Linked DNA regions of Homo sapiens. The protein of the gene in region 4 purifies or fractionates together with the protein of the main gene of each other region. This does not show direct contact. Each region holds a gene or a part of one and is shown on either strand. Other genes may lie near its edges. The genes, in order: UQCC2, ABHD10, OCIAD1, PMPCA, RPUSD2, SOST and HLTF.

Region 1 (3,500 bases), on a different chromosome or scaffold from region 4:
GCCACGACACCAGCTGCAGTGGGAGATGCCACAATAGAAATGTAAGGTTGGAAAGGCGTGCCTAACAAAGGGGGTGCTGGGCAGAGTGGGCTACAGGGACTCAGTGGGGGAGTCCCCGCATGCTCAAGTGGTCAGTGCATGATGGAAGTGAGACAATGCTAGGTTCTGAAGGAAGCACAGCAGAAGGTCAGCAAGCAGAAGGTCAGCAAGCAGAAGGGAGAAGGGCAGGCCTTCCTGGGGGAGGAGATGCCGTCAGCAAGGAAGAGGAGGCAGGAATCCTGTGGGATGCTTCAGGCCAGACCAGTAGATTCTTTTGTTTTTTTTGAGACAGTCTCTCACTCTATTGCCCAGGCTGGAGTGCAGTGGCGCAATCTTGGCTCACTGCAACCTCCGCCTCCTGGGTTCAAGCAATTCTCCAGCCTCAGCCTCCTGAGTAACTGGGATTAAAGGCATGTGCCACCACACCCAGCTAATTTTTGTATTTTTTAGTAGAGACAGGGTTTCACCATGCTGGCCAGGCTGGTTTCGAACTCCTGACCTCAAGCGATCCACCTGCCTCAGCCTCCCAGAGTGTTGGGGTTACAGGCATGAGCCACCATGCCCGGCCTCAGACCAACAGATTCTTTTAGCAAAGGCAAAAAAAAAAAAAATCATCTGAGTTCTCAATCTATGATAAGTGGGGAGCTGCTGAAACTCTACAAGAAGGAAAGAAACATGAAGAAGGCAACATTTAAGATAAAATGTGTAAACTGAGGAGAACCAAGCCAGGACCACAGTTAGGTCCTGCTAGAAAGGAGATGGCCCAGAACACTGAGGCCTTGCCATAGAAAGGGTGATGTAAGTCAATTCTCTGGTGCCAGAGACAGCAGTGCCCCTGCTGGACCTTCTCAGGGAGACAGGCAGCATACAGAGGAGGTGTGGTCTTTTCTCTTGCACCTCTTCTAACTTTCCCTTTACTCTGTCCTTCCTATTATTTATGTATAGTTCTTTATATTTTTCTGCCAAGAATTTTGAAAAGCTCCCCAGAACAAAACTTTCTCTTTTATATTTTTTCCCCCAGAATTCAAATGATGGATTTTTTCCTAACTTAAATCCTTCCTTGGAGAAGGCAGAGCATAAATAAATCAGTAGTAAAGTGGTTTAATAGGCAGCTCCACTGCTGCCTCTCTGTGCATGTCAAATGAGGTCCCTACTTTACAGCAAACAAAAAAGACAATCCATCATTTAGTTCTACCTGACCCATTCCTGCGTTCAGGCTACTCATCATGAGAATGTACACCCAGATACATCAGAAGAGGAAGGATTATGGCCTGAGGAGGTGGCCAGCGTTTGCTGAATAATAAAGTCATTATCTGAGTGGACAGAATGAATGGAAAATATGAGGCTGTGGTCTCCCTGCTGCTGGTCAGCTTGTCCAGGGAAAGTCCCATTAGAATGGAATTCTGCACACATCTGGGCGAACACATCTGGAACATTTCTTCAGCAGGGCACGCACAGCCAAGAGCTAACGCTGGAGTGCAATGGCGTGATCTCGGCTCACTGCAAACTCCCCTCCTGGGTTCAAGTGATTCTCCTGCTTCAGCCTCCCAAGTAGCTGGGATTACAGGTACCCACCACTACGCCCAGCTAATTTTGTGTATTTTTAGCAGAGACAGGCTTTCACCATGTTGGCCAGGCTGGTCTCGAACTCCTGACCTTGTGATTTGCCCACCTCGGCCTCCCAAAGTGTGCTCACTTATAAATTTAACAGACATTCATCGAGACCCTATAGCATGATTGGCCCATCTATGAGCAGGGGACGCTTGGGTGAATGAGTATCTCCAAGGCTGTAGGGAGCAGGGGAGTCAAACTGCCTGGGTTGACTCCTGGCACCATCCCTTATCAGCTATGTGATGTCAGGCAAACCACTCACTCTTCCCCATGAAATACACTTAAAAAAAAAAAAAGTTGCCACAGTTTATCTTTCTCTGTATCTGTACATACATATCCTTCTTCTGATCCACTTGAAAGTAGGAGCATAATGCCCCTTCACCCCATAATATTTCAGTGTGCATTTCCTAAGAACAAGAACATTCTCTTATATAACCACAGTTCAATGATCAAATTCAGGCCACTTAACACCGATACAACACTATTATCTAATGCACAGTCCATATTCCAATTCTGTCAATTGTCTCAATAATAATCTATGGAAAAACAGGATGTCCTGCTGCATTTAACAGTCATGTATCTTTTAGTCTCCTTTAATCCGGGACCGTTCCTCGGCCTTTGTCTTTCATGCACTGAACATTTTTAAAGCATACTGGCCAACTTAACCTTTCTTTTAAAAGAAAATATAATAATAGCCCCTACGTCCCCGGTGGTGTGAGGATAAATGAGGTGACGCTTGGGCTGCTCTGAATTCCGGGCCTGGAACGCCGATAAATGTGAGCGATTAGTTTTTCTCACAGTTATTAGTAGTAAAGAGTTGTAGTAAACACAGGCCCCTGTCTCATAAAATAAGAGGGGAAAGGACAGAACAGTTCAGAACCACCCTGGTGGGAGTGGAATGAAGGGGCATGTACAAGGTGCTATGGGCCTATGGGGCCAGGCAGGAAGTGCTGGACAATGAGTGGCTGAGGATGGGCGCATGTACCGGCAAGGGAGTGGGGTGCTCCAGGCACAGGACCAGGTGGAGCCCGTGCCCAGGGAATGGGTCAGCATGTTACCAGTGGATCAGCATGGCTGGTGTGCACTGCCGAGGGTGGCGCTGGAAACGGAAGTGAGGAAGGATGAAAAACTGCTGAGGCTTCACTCCTGACTGACCCTGGTGGCTCTCAGCAGTCACTGAGCTCTCCATGGTCTGCCGAGAGAGCAGCTGTTTGCTGTACCTGGTCTTCACCTGATGGCCGCTTATCTGGACCTTCCCGTCCTGCCACCATCCCCACCACCTTCCCAACCAAGCTCTTAGGAAAGGAGTCCACAAGCTGATCTGCCTTCCTCCCATAGCCTCTGCCTCTCTCCTGGGCTCCTAACACTGCTTCCTGATAAACCTGCATTCTGACCAGATCCCCACCCTCAAATACCTTTCAACTCAAGTTCCCTTCCTGCTCCAACTTCTCTAGCAGTGAGAAGTCACCAGTAGGTTGCTCAGCAACCTTGTATCACACCCTCAAGCAGGTGTGGTATAAGGTGCTGTCCTTCCTTGCCACGTAGTCCCATCCCTGATGAGCAGCAGGACAGACAGGAGGGGCATGGGGGGCGGGTCACCCTTGCAGAGTGCTGCTCCTATAAGAGCAAAATGTACAAAGTCTAAGTGCAAAAAGCAAAGTGACCCTCAGGTACTCTCACTTCTTTTTTTTTTTTTTTTTAGATGGAGTCTCACTCTGTCGCCCAGGCTGGAGTGCACTGGCACAATCTTGGCTCACTGCAAGCTCCGCCTCCCGGGTTCATGCCATTCTCCTGCCTCAGCCTCCCAAGTAGCTGGAACTATAGGCGCCCGCTACCACGCCTGGCTAATT
Region 2 (3,500 bases), on a different chromosome or scaffold from region 4:
ACTTCTGTTCTAATCAGTTGAAGTAAATGCCAGCATTTTTATACATTATTTTAATGGTCTGTAAACTTGCATCTTGTGATTTAGGGTAATTTTAAAAGCAACCTTTAAAAGACCTTTTTTAAAGGCCTTTGTGCCACGCTGACAACCCTGGCAGAAAAGGACATCTTAAGGGAAATATTGGTAACTAAGCTCTTTAGAGGCAATAATGTATGTGACAACAAACAGATATACTAGTTGGCTTTCATACAGTCTCTTATATTATCATTTTCCACTGGGGACTTAAGGACTTTATTTGATCACTGTTTATCTAAAAGTAATACATGTATTTAAAAGTATCATAATGCAAATTTCTGCTGAGTTTTCTCTTCCCTCTCCTGTAATCTGAATATGTATAAGCATAAATAGGGATAAGTGGTACTTAACTCAAGCTTGATTTTATAATTCCTAATTTTTCACACTGAGAGTTATTTTAGTAAATAACTTTATGTTATTATAAGGTCTACCTGTAGCAGTTATATGTTTAGTATCCACTGTCCAGAAGAGATGGTATGATTTCGTAAAAAGAAGATTAGCCTGGAATTCAAGAAACATGAGTTCTAGAATAAATTCGAGCAATAACTATGACAAGACAAGTAAGTTAATAAACATTGGACCTAAGTTTGTCATCAAAAGAAGGAGGTTGGACTAGAGATAACTTCTGAGTTATTTTCTAGCACTAACAGCCTAAAAATCTATCCATCTAAATTTTTAGAAGAGTGACTCACAAACATTCATTCAATAATTCTAGAAAATACAGCTGTATATAAAACTTTCAGACTACCTGTTCAATATATTAGCAGCAATTATGTCAATTATAAAATTAAATAAGATTTAATCTTATTTCTTTTACCAAACTAATGAATTATTTTATTTTCATACTCAGAACTATGTTAAAATCTGTTCTGACTTATTCTGAAGATTGGAGTACTTTTTGGAAATAGATTCTCTAGCACTATACTGAGTGCTGCATAATAACAAAGAATTATAAAACATTGTACTTGCCTATGAGGACCTTTCATTCAGGGTGGGGAAACACAAGATAAAATACATGTTAGAAATTTGGCAGAAATACTCATCAGAATGTGATTGTGTCAAAAGAACAGTATACTTAATTGCATAAAGTTAGAGACAGTGGGATTGAAATAGATAAAGGAACGTTGAAGAATAATTCAGATTTGGGTGGGAGGGAAGTGCTGTCCAAGGAGGGGGACTGTCCTGAGCAGAAGATCATAATATCAAAAATATTGTTATCACTTTTCTTTTTTGCCACTGAATAAATTTGAATCGAGAAATCACCATTTTACCAGTTCTAAAATTTCAGCTTTGAGACTATGAGAGTTATAACCAGTTCCTGTCTCCCTATAAGACATAATGTGGCTTTTCTGCATTTTTGGATCCTGTGTGAGTATACCTTCATAAAGAATAGTGCTTAACTACAAATATTTAGTTTGAACAAGTTCCATTTTATTTGCTCTTATCAAAGTTCATCACAGTCTAATTATTGTTAACTATTGATTGCACTTTATTATAAGAGATTTTATCTTCTATTCTCTAATTTTTCAGGTTGCTTTTGTTGGGATTTTTTGCTGTAAAATTTAGATCTTCAATGATGAAATAGTTTATTACACAAGAAATAAAACATATGACTATATGAAAATGTTTTATTAAGGTCCTATCACCATGCCTAAAATAAGACTGATTCAGATCTCAGGAATATAACATATGGTTTTAAGGCTGGTATTCTCTCATAATTATTTGTAATAGAATTTTTATTTGGGACTACATCCCAGACTATTGAGGCTGCTAAGATGGAGATGTGCTACTGTTTAAAAGTTTTAAAGTGCTGAATATGTTTGGATTATCTTTGTCTCTGGATTGGGGTTCAGTGAGAGTTAACTATATTTTTTTAATGGTACCCTGTTAGTATCACCAAGTATTTATATTTTCCTTCATGAAGGAGCTGTACAAGTATTTTGCATCCTCACCATATATTTGGAAGGCAGCTAACTGTAAAAGATGCCACATTCAGCCATATCCAATTGCCACCTATGAAGAGAGAAAAGGAGAAAATTAGTTGGTGTCTTTCCCCCTTTTTTCTTCCACCCCTTCTACCCATCTCTTACATACCCTGGATTGAGGGGGAAACAGTAACTGATTTAGACTGCACCAGTTGCCCTGTTCTATTTCCCAAGGATCCAAAATCGTTTCACTTCAAACCTAAAGAAAAATTTAATTTCTTCTCTCCCCTATTTCTCATAAATCCCTTACTTACTGTACCAGCCATTCCACCAAAAAGGTTCATTTGAACTAGGCTCTGGGAAAGGATATCAGTAAAGAAGGGAAAATATATCAGTAAAGAAGATGATGGAAGAAGGTATTCCAGGTAAAGGAATCAACAGTGTGAGATGTGAAACACATAAGAAAACATAGACCTATTTTAGGAACAGTAAGTTCATCAATTTGTCTAAAGCAGTAGTATTCCCTGATGAAGTGAGTACTACTGTAAAATTTAGTAGTAAAAAAAAATTTACTGTAAAATTTATTGTGAAATCAATCTGAAATGACCAGAATATAATGGTTCAAAAAAACAGGCCAAAGCACTAAGTGTTTATGTTGTATATCACAGGGAGCACTGAAGGTAATGCTAAAATGTTAAAGAAAAAAACTGACATGTATATAGTGACTCTATTTAAAGACAGAGTCATAGAGACACAAGATAGAAGGCTACTGTGATAGTCTAGGTCTAAGATGACAAATAAACACCTACACCAAGATACTGGACTTACCAAAGTACCAAGAAAGGGATGAACATAAGAAGAAATGAGAAAGAATGGTGATGGTATAGGGCAGGCAGTATTCTGTGGCCTGGAAAAACAAACGAATAAAACAGCCTCCTCTTAAGGAACTGACATTCTAGTCAGAGGGAGATGAATGTTTAAAAACAAACTTGATTACAATACAATATGAAAAGTGTTGAGTACATACAAAAGAAAGTGACTGGTACTAAATGGGGCATATATGTCAAGTGAAGTTCCTCAGAGGAGGTGACATGACTTAAAGGGTGACTACGAATTTGGGTTGGGGAGGAAGCTGTTCTTGGCAGCAGAACAGCATGCTAAGGCTCTAAGTTATAAAAGGGTGTAACTGGGAATTAGGAGTAGTTCAGTATGACTAGAGTTTAGGTAACCTGTGGGTGTGGTATGATACTTTATACCACCATGATTTTTTATTGATTTGATACCCTTAAGGAGAGGTAAAATTCATAGATCAGACAGATAACTGAGCCTAGATAACTAGGAAGTTGGAAGGAGAAAGGGATGGGTTGGTGATGATGAATTTTATTCTGGTCTCCTTCCCTTCCATCAATTCACTAAATATACACTAAGCACCTACCACTCGCAAGGAACTGAACTAGGCACTAGGAACGCATTGAAACAAAGCTTGTGCCCATGTGGAACTTT
Region 3 (3,500 bases), on a different chromosome or scaffold from region 4:
TAGAAGACAGAATTAATTATAGCACCAAAAAAAAAAACGCTCAAAACCCAGGAACAAATCTAATGAAAGATATGAAAGATCTCTACACTGACAAGTTATAAAACTTACTGAGAATTGAAAGACCCAATATTCTAAAGATGGCAATTCTCCATAACTTCACCTATAAATACAATGCAATCCCAATTAAAATCAAAGTTTTACAAAAATTGAAAAGCTTATTCTAAGAGTCATGTGGAACACAAAGGGCCAAGGCAACACTGAAGAATCGTATTATAGAACTGACTACCACCAGATAGCAAAATCTACATGATAAAGCTGTAGTAATTAAGACAGTCTGGTATTAAGTACAAGAATAGGCAAACTGACCAAAACTAAGAGTCCAGAAACAGATCCACACCTGCACACTTGATTTATGACAAAGACAACACTGCAGCATAGTCCTTTCAAATATAGTGCTGGGTCAATTAATATCCATTAACAGGGGAAAATGTACCTTGATCCTACATCGAACAATAATCCAGATGGCTTAAAAATTTAAATATGAAAGATTTTTTTAAAAAATTTTACAGAAGAAAGCATGAGACCATCTTTGTGTCCTTAGAGTAGACGAAGATCTTAAAGAGTCAACAAAAAGCACCTATTAGAAAGAAGAAACCTGATAAATTGGACTCTATTAACACTGAAAACTACAGTTAAACAGAGTGGGGAAAAAATAATCACCATATCTATATCTGACAAAAGACTCAATTCCAAAGTATACAGAGAAGTCTCACAAAACCAATAGGAAAAAAGACAATACAATGGAAAAATGGTTAACAGACTTAAACAGATACTTCACAGAAAAAGATATGCTGAAATGAAGTATAAACAAATGGAAAGGTCTTCAACTTCATTGGTTACAGGGAAATACAAATTCAAGCCACAATGCAATCAATATTAGTGTTTATTTACCACAATGGCTAAAACATAAAAGACATAAAAATAGCTAGTGTTGGTGAGAATGTAGGAGTATACATTGGTCTAAATAGTTTGGTAATATCTACTAAAGCTAAATAAATATATACAAAATCTATGACCCAGCAAAATGTCTATCAAAAAGGCACCATATTCTTGGCAAAACTAATTGTAACAGTGAAAATTGAAAACTACCAATTATCAATGCACAGTTCAGATAGATAAACTGGTGTATTCACACAGAGGAAAACTATAGGGCAACTACATGCAACAATGTGGTTAAGTGCAATGATGTGCTGGTAAACCAGCACTCCCTATAAAAAGCTCTAATTTTAATGTTTGTCAGTTTCCATGGTGTAAAGCTACCAATTCTTTTTTTTTTTTTTTTGAGACGAGTCTCGCTCTGTCCCCAGGCTGGAGTGCAGTGGCGCCATCTCAGCTCACTGCAACCTTCGCCTCCTGGGTTCAAGCAATTCTCCTGCCTCAGCCTCCCAAGTAGCTGGGACTACAGGTGCACACCACCATGCCCAGTTAATTTTTTGTATTTTTAGTAGAGACAGGGTTTCACCATATTGGCCAGGATGGTCTCAATCACCTGACCTCATGATCCGCCTGCCTCAGCCTCCCAAAGTGCTGGGATTACCGGCATGAGCCACCGTACCCGGCCAACTACCAACACTTTAAAAACCAGCTTGCCAAAGTTCCCGAAAATTTAACAACCAATTCTCAGGAGCCAGTACAAACCAGTTCCAGCATGCTACTGGATGAATCTCACCATGTTGAAAGAACTTACATAAAAGAATATTTCAGTGTATGATTTCATGTAATTAAAGTACAAAAACAGACAACTAATCTGTGCCTTTAGCCTCAGTTCCTTCATTTATAAGAACTGGGATGACAATAGAAAAAGGAAGATGGTAAGAACATCTCTATTTTTACATTAAAAAGTTGTTCCTTCATACTGTCACCAACTAGTTATAGACCACTTACAACATAAAGGTACTACATACTGGATATTAACAGGAAACAGGACACACTCTTTACTCTCATGGAATTTACAGTCTAGAGAGAGAGTTAAGACAAAGATAATAGTGTCATGGTTGCTATTCATCCCCTCAAATATTTGAGTACTATGTGCACTATGTATGTCCTCTGTCAGGTGCTAGAAATAGCTTATTTTCCTAAGGAGAAGTAGCAAGAATGGAAACAAACAGATTTGTTGAAGGTTAACGCAATACTCTTTGTGACATATGGTTGCATTAATTATGCTGGCAGTACAGATGGAGGTAGATAGTTAATAAAGACATTTAAGAGCTAAAAGACATTAATTGGACAAGGCAGATAAGGGATAGATGTGAAGGATAATGTCCCAGTTTCCTGGATAGTACTAACACCACTCAGTCATGAAGGGAAAGGAGGAATTGGTTTTGTGGAAAATGGTTGAGTTCTGTTTGAGGAGCCTATAGAAGGGCCATACATATTATATATTATATCCAAAATATAGTAACACCAACATTTCCCAAACAACTAGACAAAAAAACCCATACAAGAATGTAAGCACCAAGAGTTAATGAATTTTTGTTGTTTAGTGCTATATAACAATGTATAGTACATATCAGACACTCAAAAAACATGAAACAGAGGAATCGCCTGAGGTAGGAGAAAAATCTTAGGAATATGCCATCATGGAAGCCAAGAGAATAGACTATTTCAAGAAAAACTGGTTAAAGTTATGTAACGTTGGTCAAGAACAAAAACTGTCCATTATATTTAAGCAACAAACAGGTTGTTTTTGAAAAGTTTGTTTTTGAACTTTTGAAAAGTTCCAATAAATGGTAGAACATATGGATAGTCTCACACTGACTGCAATGGGTTAAACGAAGTAAAAAGTGAAGGGCTCATTCATGAAGTCTGCCTCTGGCTTCAAATATGAGGCAGTTGGGAGTAGCTGGAAAAACAAATGAGGGAGGATTTTTTTTTCTTTTTAATGTTCTCAAGTTAGAGGAGACCTGAGCATGTTTAAATGGTTTTGGCAGATCAGGAAGAAACAGAAGGAACATCTAAGACCACGTGGAGTATGACACACTGTGGATGAAAGGGGATACAGGCAGCCCTCCATATGTACATGTTCTGCAACCAACTGCGGATAGAAAATATTTAGGAAAAAAAAAACTGCATCTATACTAAACATGTACAGACTTGTTTCTTGTCATTATTCCCTAAACAATACAGTATAACAACTATTTACATAGTGTTTACATAGTCTTAGGTATTATAAGTAATCTAGAGATGATTTACAGTATACAGGCAGATATGCACGTAAACTTTACTAGGCCGTTTTATATCAGAGACTTAAGCTTTTGTGGATTTTGGTATCCTCTGGAGGGTCCTGGAACCAATCCACACAGACACAAAAGGACCACTGTACAAAATGTCAGGGATTTTGATTAAATGCAAAATGTCTTGGTGGATTCCAAATTCTTTTCTTAAAGTCTCTCTCAATTTTTACCTTTTTTTTGAGACAGAGTCTCGCTCTGTTGCCCAGG
Region 4 (3,500 bases):
TAACCACAACTTTATTTCTTGAATGCTTTTTTTCCTGGCCGGGCACGGTGGCTCACACCGGGATCCCAAAGTAATCCCAGCACTTTGGGAGGCCAAGGCAGGTGGATCACCTGAGGTCAGCAGTTCAAGACCGGTCTGGCCAACGTGGTGAAACCCTGTCTCTACTAAAAATACAAAAATTAGCCATGGGGCTGCGTGCAATGGCTCACACCTGTAATCCCAGCACTTTGGGAGGCCGAGATGGGCAGATGACTTGAGGTCAGGAGTTCAAGACCAGCCTGGCCAACATGGTGAAACCCCATCTCTACTAAAAATACAAAAAATTAGCCAGGTGTGGTGGTGGGTGCCTGTAATCCCAGCTACTCAGGAGGCTGAGGTAGGAGAATCACCTGAACCCGGGAGGCGGAGGTTGCAATGAGTTGAGATCATGCCACCGCACTCCAGCCTGGGCAACAGAGCAGGACTCCGTCTCAAAAAAAAAAAAAAAAAACAGAAAACAAAAAACAAAAAAATTAGCTAGGGTGGTGACACATGCCTGTAATCCCAGCTACTCAGGAGGCTAAGGTAGGAGAATCACCTGAACCCGGGAGGTGGAAGGATGCAGTGAGCTGAGATCATGCCACTGCACTCCAGCCTGAGCAAGACTCTGTCTAAAAAAAAAAAAAAGTGTGTGTATAAAACTTGCTTATTTGTACCACTTCTGGTCCAGGAAGTAACGAGGTTCCCAAATGTGTAAAGCATCAAAAACTAAGCTTAAAAAATTAGTAAACAGGGACGCATGGTGGCTCACACCTGTAATTGTAATCCCAGCACCTTGGGAGGCCAAGGCAACGGATCACTTGAGGTCAGGAGTTTAAGACCACCCTGGCCAACATGGCGAAACCCCGTCTCTACTAAAAATACAAAAATTAGCCAGGCATGGTGGCGCATGCCTGTAATCCCAGCTACTTGGGAGGCTGAAGCAGGAGAATCGCTTGAACCCGGGAGGTGGAGGTTGCAGTGAGCCGAATTTGAGCTACTGCACTCCAGCCTGGGTGAGACAGTGAGACTCCATCTTAAAAAGAACAAAAAAAAATTGGTAAACAAATACAGTTTCAAACATAGAATGGAGCCAGGGAAAGGCTCGAGACACCCCACGCTGCAGCCCACCTGTGCGAGCTGCTTCACCCCAGTCACCTCACAGAGGCGGCTGAGAAGGACACAAAAACTCCTGCAGCGTTTCGCCAGCAAAGCTGAGAGAGTCACATGGTCAGTCCCACGACTCACCCAGTGGCTCAGAGAAAGAAGTAGTGGACCGAGCACTGGGGGAGGGCGGTGGTCTGTTTTTCTGTTTTCGGGGTTTGGACCAGGGAAGAACAGCCTCAGCGGGCTCCCAGGTGGAGCAGCTCAGCCCCAGGCTGTGCCTCCTTGGCCGCCCTGCCCTGCCCTGCCCTGCCGGGACCTTGGCCCTGAGGCTCAGGGACCAGGCCCACAGGTGGCCACTCCTACAACGTGGCTGTCTCCTGTCAGACACCACAGGTACGCCTGGAAATGGCGCCACACTGCACTTACCGTGTCCACGGTTCCGCCCATTAAAATAAACTCCTTTGTGATGATTTCTACCATTTCTCGAACCTGCGAAGAAGGGCAAGACGATAACAGTGTGGCCTGCGCCTGCCGGCCTACTGACCCGTCTAGGCAGGGACGCCCAGGTCTGGACAGGCAACCGCACTGAGGACGGTGGCAGGCGGGGCCCTCACCTGTCTTGGGTCGGCGCTGGCATGGATGCAAAGGAGGCCAGTGTCCTCGTAGCTGTGGTGGTAGGAGGTCGCGTTATACATCCAGTGGTGCCTGGGAGGAAGCGAGAGTCATGGGAGTGAAGGGGACTCGCCAGGATCAGGCCATGGGAAACTGGAGAAAAGTCACCTGGAAGGTGGCCTCATGGTCCAAAAACACACCTGGCCTGGCCTGGTGGCCTGAGGATACAGAAAAGAGTGCAACCCACCTGTTGAGCACGTTGAGGTAGAGCCTGGAGAACATGCCCTTGCCGGGCCCACCAGCCGAGAAGGAGCCACCTCCGCCCATCATCATGTTCAACACTGCAAAGGGGATGAAGTCCTCCTCCTGCAGGGACGGAGGGCAGAGCTGGCTGAACCACCCACGCCACGTCAGGAGCACCGTCAGACGCCAGGGACGGAGGGCAGAGCTGGCTGAGTCGCCCAAGCCACGTCAGGAGCGCCGCTGGACGCCAGGGACGGAGGGCAGAGCTGGCTGAGCCACCCATGCCGCGTCAGGAGCGCCGTCGGATGCCAGGGACAAAGGGCAGAGCTAGCTGAGCCACCCACGCTGTGTCACGAGCGCCGTCAGACGCCAGGGACAGAGGGCAGAGCTGGCTGAGTCGCCCACACTGCATCAGGAGCATTGCTGGATGCCAGGGACAGAGGGCAGAGCTGGCTGAGCCGCCCACGCCCCATCAGGAGCGCTGTCGGATGCCAGGGACAGAGGGCAGGGCTGGCTGAGCCGGCCACACTGCATCAGGAACGCCATCAGACCCAGCACCAGGACTCACCAGGAAGGAGCAGCTCTCCAGTCCAACCATGATGTGCGTGAGCTCGGGGATGGGGGTCGGGCCCAGGCTGACATTGGACATGTCTCTTTCTAGCTGTAACCAAGAAAACAAGCAAGTGTCGCCATGTGAAAAACAATGAGGGCTCGCAAACCCCAGATGAGATCATCTTCAGAGTGGTTACACAGAAATCCAATGCCAGCCAGGCACAGTGGCTCATGCCTAAAATCCCAGCACTTTGGGAGGCCAAGGTGGGCAGATCACTTGAGTCCAGGAGTTCAAGACCAGCCTAGGCAATGTGGCAAAACTCCACCTCTACCAAAAAGACAAAAAAAAAAAAACATATGTATATACATATAAGCTGGGCGTGGTGGCTTACGCCTGTAATCCCAGCATTTTGGGAGGCTGAGGCAGGTAGATCATGAGGTCAGGAGTTCGAGACCAGCCTGGCCAACATAGTGAAACCCCATCTCTATACAAAATTTAGCCGGGCGTGGTGGTAATCCCAGCTACTCGGGAAGTTGAGGCAGAAGAATCACTTGAACCTGGGAGGTGGAGGTTGCAGTAAGCCGAGATTGCACCACTGCACTCCAGCCTGGGTGACAGAGCGAGGCTCCATCTCTAAAAAAAAAAAAAAAAAATGCAACACGCAGTGGCAGACCCACTCCCCTAGAGAAAGAACCGCATCCACCTTTTGTGTTGCTCTCAGGCCTAGCAGCACTCATTCTCAGCAGGGGACACAGTCCATGCCCTGCTGTGGGACTACAGCATGTGTTAAGGCAAAGCTACACATGCAGTCAACACCTATCACCCTCAGAATCAATACAAAAACAGGTCACACCACGGGCCAGGGGACGTGTTCCCCACCCGAGGCCATGAGACGTTCCCGCTACTTCACCTTGGCAATCCCCCCAGTGTACTGGGCCACAGATCTGTCAATATCCACGGCCTCTGC
Region 5 (3,151 bases), on a different chromosome or scaffold from region 4:
ACGCCTGTAATCCCAACACTTTGGGAGGCCGAGGCGGGCAGATCACGAGGTCAGGAGATCGAGGTCATCCTGGCTAACACGGTGAAACCCCGTCTCTACTAAAAAAAAATACAAAAAATTAGCTGGGCGTGGTGGCGGGCACCTATAGTCCCAGCTACTCGGGAGGCTGAGGCAGGAGAATGGTGTGAACCCAAGAGGTGGAGCTTGCAGTGAGCCGAATCGCGCCACCGCACTCCAGCCTGGGTGACAGAGTGAGACTCTGTCTCAAAAAAAAAAAAAAAAACTTACCCTGGCATGGTGGCACATGCCTGTAGTCCCAGCTACTTGGGAGGCTGAGATAGGAGGATCACTTGGCCATGGGAGGTTGAGGCTGCAGTGAGCCATGAGCATGTCACTGCGTTCCAGCCTGAGCTATAGAACAAGACTCCGTCTCAAAGAAATAAATTAACATAAGAAAATAAAGTGCTGACAGGCTGAGCAAGGCTTTTAAGATTATGGGGAGAGCCTGCTTGGTGAAAAGATTCTAGATGTAGTTGGAAAAGTCTTGGGTAGAGGAGTTTAATGGTAATGATTGTTGTCCTGAGACTTGTAATTCTGGATCTGAATCATAATACATTTATTGAGTGCATGCTATATACCAGGCTTAGTATCAAGCACATTAGAGCCTAACTTACTGAATGCTTATCACAGCCCAATGAGGTAAATGCTTTTCTTTTCTTTTCTTTTTTTTTTTTTTTTTTTTTGAGATGGAGTTTCGCTCTTGTTGCCCAGTCTGGAGTGCAATGGTGTGATCCTGGCTCACTGCAACCTCCGCCTCCTGGGTTCAAGCAATTATCCTGCCTCAGCCTCCCAGGTAGCTGGGATGACTGGCATGCGCCACCACGCCTGGCTAATTTTGTATTTTTTAGTAGAGACGGGGTTTCTTCATGTTGGTCAGGCTGGTCTCGAACTTTCGACCTCAGGTGATCCACCCACCTCAGCTTCCCAAAGTGCTGGGATTACAGGCGTGAGCCACCTCACCCAGCTGGTAAATGCTTTTCTAATTTCACATTTTCTAGATGAGTTAGTAGGATTTAGAGGTTAAGTAATGTACCCAAGATCGCAAAACTGGCGAATGGTAGAGCTGGAGTTTGAATTTTCTGACACTGGTCCTTATCACTCCACAAAGAGTTTGGACTCCATGAATTTAGGCTTTGTACTGACTTTCTCCCTCTTCCCTCCTATGTAGCTGGAGAAGGAGTACGTGTGCCGGGTGGAAGGGGAGTTCCCCACTGAGGAAGTGACCTGTAAAGAACCCATCTTAGTGGTGTCTTACAAAGTAGGGGTGTGCCGTGTAGATCCCCGGGGCAAGCCCTGTGAGACAGTGTTCCAGAGGCTAAGCTACAATGGCCAGTCCAGTGTGGTACGGTGCCGGCCACTCACAGGCCGCACACACCAGATTCGAGTCCACCTTCAGTTCTTGGGCCATCCCATTCTCAACGACCCCATCTACAACTCAGTTGCCTGGGGTCCTTCTCGAGGCCGGGGCGGCTACATTCCCAAGACAAACGAGGAGTTGCTACGGGACCTGGTAGCAGAGCACCAGGCCAAACAGAGCCTGGATGTGCTAGATCTCTGTGAGGGTGACCTGTCCCCAGGACTCACAGACTCTACGGCCCCCTCCTCAGAGTTGGGCAAGGACGACCTGGAAGAGTTGGCTGCAGCTGCCCAGAAGATGGAGGAAGTAGCTGAGGCAGCCCCTCAGGAGTTGGACACAATAGCCTTGGCATCAGAGAAGGCAGTTGAAACAGATGTCATGAATCAAGAGACAGACCCACTCTGTGCAGAGTGCCGGCTGGTGCGACAGGATCCCTTGCCCCAAGACCTTGTGATGTTCCTACATGCCCTACGCTATAAAGGGCCAGGCTTTGAGTACTTTTCACCAATGCCTGCCTGGGCACAGGATGACTGGCAAAAGGACTGAGGGTGTGGCCAATGGAGGGATTGCTTCTTGGGTTGTGACAAGGATGGGCTATAGGGCAAGGGCTGACCCCATGGGCTAGTACTTGGGGTTTCTATAGGAATGAGGACGGGCTTCTAAAGAGACCTGCTCATACTTGCTACCTCCTTCCAGTGGGAATTTGGAGACTTTTTGGTTTGTAAATATATCCCTTTTTCTAACATCTTTGATGTCTGGTTTTCTTCCGGCTTCTTTTTTATTACTGATGTAAAATTCACATAACATAAAATTAACCACTTTAACTAGCCAGGCACAGTGGCTCATGGCTATAATCCTAGTACTTTGGGAGGTAGAAGTGAAAGGATCACTGGAGGCCAAGAGTTCAAGGTTAAAGTGAACTGTGATTGTGCTGCTGCACTCCAGAGCCTAGGTGACAGAGTGAGACCCTGTCTCTTAAAAAAAAAAAAAATTAACCAATTTAAGATGTACAGCGTAGTCACATTTAGTACATTCACAGTGTTGTACAACCATAACCTCATATATTTCCAAAACATTTTCATCACCCCAAAAGGAAACCTGTACCCATTAAGTAAGTGGTCACTTTCCACTCCCCTTCCACCAGCCTCTGGCAACCACTAATCTACTTTCTGTCTGTTTGGATTTGCCTGTTTATTCTGGACATTTTATATAAATGGAATGATAAAACATGTGACCTATGTCTCTGTTTCCCTTGGCATAATGTTTTCAAGGTTTATTCAACTTGTAGCATGTATCGGTACTTCATTCTTTTTTTATGGCAGAATAAGCTGTTGTATGGATATACCACGATTTGTCTATCTGTTCATCAGTTAATGGACATTTGGGTTGTTTCCACCATTTCATTATTGTGGATAGTGCTGCTGTGAACATTAAATATGTTTTCAGTTCTTTTGGGTATATACCTCACAGTGGAATTGCTGGGTCATATGGTAATTCTATGTTTAAATGTTTGAGAATCCACCAAACTTTTCCACAGCAGCTGAACCATTTTATATTGCCACCAGCAAGCATAGGGTTTCAATTTCTCTACATCTTCACCAACATTTGTTTTGTTTTGATTATAGTCATCCTAGTAGGAGTGAAGTGGCATCTCATTCTGGGTTGTTAGTCTTTTTGTTGTGGAGTGTAAGTGTTCTTTATATATTCTGGATGTGAGAGTCTTAGCAAAAAGAC
Region 6 (2,554 bases), on a different chromosome or scaffold from region 4:
TAATGTGAATCCTAAAGAAAGAGGATTAGTTATTGGGGGTGCTAAGTGTGGATGGCAAACTAAGGAAGCAGGGATCTGCATGACCATTTGGAGTCAGTAGGAAGCTTGGTGGAGTGGGAGGTGGGAGTCAAGCAGAGAAGGCCTCCCATGTCAGATAGGGAAACTGCACTTGATCCTGGGCAAGGGGGAGCTATGGAAGGCTTTTGAGCAGGGGAGTGATACAATGAGAACAGCATTTTGGAAGCCAGCATGGAGGGGAGGCTGCTAAAAGGATACAAGGCTGAGGTTATTACCATGCCCTGGGTGAAGAAATGCGGTCTGGGTTTGGAAAGGAAGGGATAAACATGACTTTTCAAAGGAAGACATAATTGCCACAAGGGCCACCAGAGAGCAGTCAAAGGTGTGTCCAAGGTTGGAGCTCTAGTGACCAAGAGAAGGGTGTCAACTTTGACAGAAATGACGTCATGTGTGGTTGACAAAATGAGACCACATCCTTTCGGTCATGATTCATTGTCTTTATTAACAATGTCTCTGGACTCTGGAAGAACAGACTGTTAATTCATAAAGCAATATTAACATTGTCATTCTCTACAAGAAAAACTTTTGCATAAATAACTTAAGTGAGAAAATAAATATGTAACTTAACTCTTTAAAAACCACTACTTTCATTCTTGTGGACAAGTCCCACGTGGAAGAATTGCCAAAAAAACGACCAGTCCTGCAGGCTTTCATATGTCATGTGCTTCTGTTTAAAACTTTTTTTTTTTAACAATTAAAAACTACACAGAAAGTAAGAGGTTGTCTGGAAATGATTTTCAAAAAGATTTTTGGGTGGCAGTATTATGCTCTGCAGTTTCTCAGCATATGTACAGCACTTGTAGTTTTTCCCCCAATAATATTCTTTTAGTGTAAGATATGCCATCACATGTAAGAGCAGTAAGAAGCTGTTTTCTAGGCAGAAATGTGTCCGTGAGTGGTGGGCAGAAGGCGGTGTCTCAAAAGGGATGTGCTGGTCTGTGAGTTTGTGATGGCTGCTCCCTCGGGCCTGCAAGGCCAGTGTCCTTGAACCTTTCACTTCTCTTCGGAAGGTGACTTTAAAACATGGCTATGGGTCGGGGGAGGGATGCTGCTCTTTGGGAAGTTGGGGCGGATGTGATTTCTATCCCTCCCACCACCCTCGGACCCTCTCCTTTTCTACCCCAATGGATGATGTTATTTCTTTGAGATGGAGGGGTGGAGGTAGCCAAACATCCGGGGAAGCCAGGCTGGGAAGCAGCATAGCTTCTTCCAGGAGTTTGTCAGCCGTAAATATGTCAGCCATAAATAGACTCTTTACTTTTTTTTTTCTGTTTGTTTTTCATCTTTGGCTGTCAGAAGAGAGCATCACAACTCTGAATTCTGGAAGTGACCTTGGCACTGAATCAATGCAACTGCATTCATTCTCTCTCTTTCTCTCTCTCTCTCTCACCTCTGCCCATTCAAAAGGCACTGGAGTCCTTGGAATCATATGCCAATAGTCTCCTCGAGATCCTATTCCCACCTCCACCCTCATTTTACAAAGTGGAAATTGAGGTCCCGAAGGAGAATTGTGTAGTTCAAGGTTACACAGCAAGTTAGTGGCAGAGCCAGGACTAGAAACCACATCTACAGTTGCCCCCAGTCTTGTGCTCTGGGCACGCCTCAGGCTTTCTGATGGGCAGCGAGGTGCAAGGGGGAATCTTATCCAACTTTCTTAACCAGTCCCTGGACTTTCCCACTCCCACACCGCTCCCTTAAAACCCCAGGGCGGTGAAAATGCTTCCATTTCTGCCTCCTCTGAAGTGGGACCAGCAAAGGTAGGCGGCCCCAGAGGCGGGGCTGCGTGGCTCAGTGTCTGTGACTCTCAATTCCCTCCCCTGCCCCGTGGGACCCCTCAGCTGGCGGGCTGAGGGGGGCCTTGCCGGCGCCCGGGATTCCTCAGGGCCTGGAAGGTCTCAGCCCCCTGCCCTGGGTTGCAGGCATTTACAATGAAATATAAACAATCAAACCACGCGCAGAGGACAGAAATGTGGGGCGCGGGTTCAGGGCCGGGGCGCCCGCCGGTGGGGAGGGGCGCGGGCGGGCTCTAGTAGGCGTTCTCCAGCTCGGCCTGGTTGGCTTTGGCGCTCCGGGCGCGGGGCCGCGGCTTCCGGCCCTTCTGCGGCCGAGCGGCCTCGGTCCCGAAGTCCTTGAGCTCCGACTGGTTGTGGAAGCGGGTGAGGCGCTTGCACTTGCACGAGGCCACCAGGCGCACCTTGCGCGCGCGCGGCGCCTCACCACCGGGACACAGCAGCTGCACGCGCTGCGCGCGGTAGCGGTCGGGGATGCAGCGGAAGTCGGGCCCACTAGGTCGCCACCACTTGCCGCGGCCGATGGCGTTGGGCAGCAGGCGCGCCGGGCCGCACTGGCCGGAGCACACCAGCTCGGTGACCGGCTTGGCGCTGCGGCACGGCCCATCGGTCACGTAGCGGGTGAAGTGCAGCTCGCGGCAGCTGTACTCGGACACGTCTGTGGAGAGAGGCGCGCGTGAGGGTGG
Region 7 (2,453 bases), on a different chromosome or scaffold from region 4:
ATTCATGTTGTTGTGCAACAGCCATCACAATCATCCATCTCCAGAACTTTTTCATCATCTTAAACTGAAACTGTGTATCCATTAAATAATAACTTCCCATTCCTCTCCCCCCAGCCCCTGGCAACTACCATTCTACTTTCTTTCTCTGAATTTGACTACTCTACAAAACCATATAGATATATCGTAATATATTTAACCCATTAAGTTTTTTGCTAATAAAAACAGTGCCATAATGAGCATTATTATATATAAATCTTTTCACATAGATGCAAGTAATTCTTTGGGATAAGTTAAGAAAACTAGAATTCTGGATTTAGAATTTTTATCAACTATCGAGTTGGTTTCAAAATAGGATTTATATGAAAATTGTTAATTTATGCTTCTGTGGCCAAAAAAGTGCTGTTCTAATTTGCATTTACCTAAAACCTTGAGTATATTTCACATATCTTGTTTATTAACATTTTTTCTGTGAATTATTTATATCTTCTGTCCAGTTCTCATAGTTATGGTACAAATAGTTTTATAGTATAAAGGACTCCCTGATACAGTCTGACTTGAAATCTTTTGTTTATGTATGTTGAAAATGGTTTATCCCATACTCTTCCTTGTCTTTAAACTGCATTTTTTTGGTCATGAAAAAGCTTTAAAATTTTTATGATTTAAAACGTCAGCCTTTTTTATACGTTCTAGGTTTTAAGGTCTTACCTAGGACAGAAGGCTTTATTTTCACATTTTTTCAACTATTCTGTATTTACTTCTGGTTCTTTTGGAAGATTTTATTTTTTGTTTTATGATTTGTGACATGAGTCTAAGCTTATTATTTTATCAGATGAAGAACGATTTGTTCTGTCACATCATTTTTTTTCTTTGAAAATTCCAACTTTTTCCCTACTAGTATGAAATGTCACTTTCATCATAAACTAATTTATATATATTACTTGGGTCTTTTTCTAGACTATTCTGTTCCATTGATCTCTTTTCCTTTTCTTAGGGCAGTATTACTCTTATAACAACTATGGTTTCCTAAAGTAAGTTTTGATACCTGATAGGGTAAAATGTTCTGATGACCCTTTTTGAAAATTGTATTGGTGGTTATTATTATTGCTCTTGAATTGAACTTTAGATTTTAGTTATAAAATCCCATTTAAGATATCTTGAGATTTATTGAATTTATTATTACTTTCGAGAACTATCTTTCTTTATAAGTAACGAATGTTTCCATACAGGAACATAGTATCCTTTCTCCATTTATGTAGATCTTATATGTATTTCAGTAAAATTTTATTATATAGCTTTAGTTATTGCAGTAATTGGGTCTTCTTAAACAATGTTAAATAGTAGCAGATAGTGACCATTCTTGACTTGTTTCTGTTTTGTTGTAGAATACTTTTATTGTTTCACATTAAATATGTAAGGTTGAGACATTCATTCCTAGTTGGGGTATTTTAAAATCAAGTTTTTATCAGGAATGAGATGATCACGTTTTATTTTTCTCTTTGTTAGTGTTGTGAATTATACTAAAGATTCATTCTTGAATTTCTGGGAATAGTTTTTTGTTTTTTTTTTTTTTTTTTTTGAGACGTCGCTCTGTCACCCAGGCTGGAGTGCAGTGGCGCAATGTCGGCTTACTGCAAGCTCCGCCTCCCGGGTTCACACCATTCTCCTGCCTCAGCCTCCCGAGTAGCTGGGACTACAGGCGCCCACCACCATGCCCGGCTAACTTTTTCTATTTTTTAGTAGAGATGGCATTTCACCGTGTTAGCCAGGATGGTCTCGATCTCCTGACCTCATGATCTGCCCGCCTCGGCCTCCCAAAGTGCTGGGATTACAGGTGTGAGCCACCGTGCCCGGCCAGAATGGCCTTTTTAATACAATGCTGAAGTCATTTTGCCAGAGTTGCCTATATAGTTTGCTTTTTTTTTCTTTATTGCTTTGCTTATCTTGTGATCTGTAACTTCTATTCGTACAGCCATATTCTTTATATAAGAAAACCATATTGGGTAAGGAAAGCAAAGTTCAGTTCTATTAAATAGTTATTATAGTTTGGTGCAAAAGTAATTGCGGTTTTTGCCATTAGGCAAATCTTTCATTTAGTTTTTTTAATAAAGATTTTAAATACTATGCCTTAAAAACTACTTAACTTTTTTTTTTCTTTTTAAAGTTCATTGTAAAGGACTCTGTTGAAGAAAATATGCTGAAAATACAAAACAAAAAGAGAGAACTTGCAGCAGGAGCCTTTGGAACTAAAAAACCAAATGCTGACGAAATGAAACAAGCCAAAATTAATGAAATCAGAACATTAATTGACTTATAATTTGTGGGATTTTAGTAAGGTCAGTTTGATTGGATACTTAAGTTTTAGAAATGAGAAAAATACAGAGTTTTAGAAATGAGATCTAGAGAACACGTCTTCTAAAAGGGGCATATTTTATATTAGTGAAGAGGTATTACTG

Evidence for each region.
Region 1: the proteins of PMPCA (region 4) and UQCC2 purify together in Homo sapiens (co-immunoprecipitation; one large-scale study listed by IntAct). This does not show direct contact.
Region 2: the proteins of PMPCA (region 4) and ABHD10 fractionate together in Homo sapiens (co-fractionation; one large-scale study listed by BioGRID). This does not show direct contact.
Region 3: the proteins of PMPCA (region 4) and OCIAD1 purify together in Homo sapiens (co-immunoprecipitation; one large-scale study listed by IntAct). This does not show direct contact.
Region 5: the proteins of PMPCA (region 4) and RPUSD2 purify together in Homo sapiens (affinity purification with mass spectrometry; 2 studies listed by BioGRID and IntAct, with this or other methods). This does not show direct contact.
Region 6: the proteins of PMPCA (region 4) and SOST purify together in Homo sapiens (co-immunoprecipitation; one large-scale study listed by IntAct). This does not show direct contact.
Region 7: the proteins of PMPCA (region 4) and HLTF purify together in Homo sapiens (affinity purification with mass spectrometry; 2 studies listed by BioGRID and IntAct, with this or other methods). This does not show direct contact.

What each region holds. Positions count from the first base shown.
Region 1 is NC_000006.12:33,701,701-33,705,200, forward strand, and holds part of UQCC2 (ubiquinol-cytochrome c reductase complex assembly factor 2), read right to left. Parts: intron 1-3,500.
Region 2 is NC_000003.12:111,982,026-111,985,525, forward strand, and holds part of ABHD10 (palmitoyl-protein thioesterase ABHD10, mitochondrial isoform 1 precursor), read left to right. Parts: intron 1-3,500. UniProt on the Homo sapiens protein: Acts as an acyl-protein thioesterase that hydrolyzes fatty acids from acylated residues in proteins.
Region 3 is NC_000004.12:48,844,588-48,848,087, reverse strand, and holds part of OCIAD1 (OCIA domain-containing protein 1), read right to left. Parts: intron 1-3,500. UniProt on the Homo sapiens protein: Maintains stem cell potency. Increases STAT3 phosphorylation and controls ERK phosphorylation. May act as a scaffold, increasing STAT3 recruitment onto endosomes. Involved in integrin-mediated cancer cell adhesion and colony formation in ovarian cancer.
Region 4 is NC_000009.12:136,417,158-136,420,657, reverse strand, and holds part of PMPCA (mitochondrial-processing peptidase subunit alpha isoform 1 precursor), read right to left. Parts: coding exon 3,444-3,500; intron 2,642-3,443; coding exon 2,549-2,641; intron 2,104-2,548; coding exon 1,985-2,103; intron 1,831-1,984; coding exon 1,740-1,830; intron 1,615-1,739; coding exon 1,552-1,614; intron 1-1,551. UniProt on the Homo sapiens protein: Substrate recognition and binding subunit of the essential mitochondrial processing protease (MPP), which cleaves the mitochondrial sequence off newly imported precursors proteins.
Region 5 is NC_000015.10:40,572,299-40,575,449, forward strand, and holds the end of RPUSD2 (pseudouridylate synthase RPUSD2), read left to right. Parts: intron 1-1,228; coding exon 1,229-1,963; 3' UTR 1,964-2,651; downstream 2,652-3,151. UniProt on the Homo sapiens protein: Pseudouridine synthase that catalyzes pseudouridylation of mRNAs.
Region 6 is NC_000017.11:43,753,238-43,755,791, forward strand, and holds the end of SOST (sclerostin precursor), read right to left. Parts: intron 2,527-2,554; coding exon 2,105-2,526; 3' UTR 501-2,104; downstream 1-500. UniProt on the Homo sapiens protein: Negative regulator of bone growth that acts through inhibition of Wnt signaling and bone formation.
Region 7 is NC_000003.12:149,032,081-149,034,533, reverse strand, and holds part of HLTF (helicase-like transcription factor), read left to right. Parts: intron 1-2,161; coding exon 2,162-2,314; 3' UTR 2,315-2,453. UniProt on the Homo sapiens protein: Has both helicase and E3 ubiquitin ligase activities. Possesses intrinsic ATP-dependent nucleosome-remodeling activity; This activity may be required for transcriptional activation or repression of specific target promoters.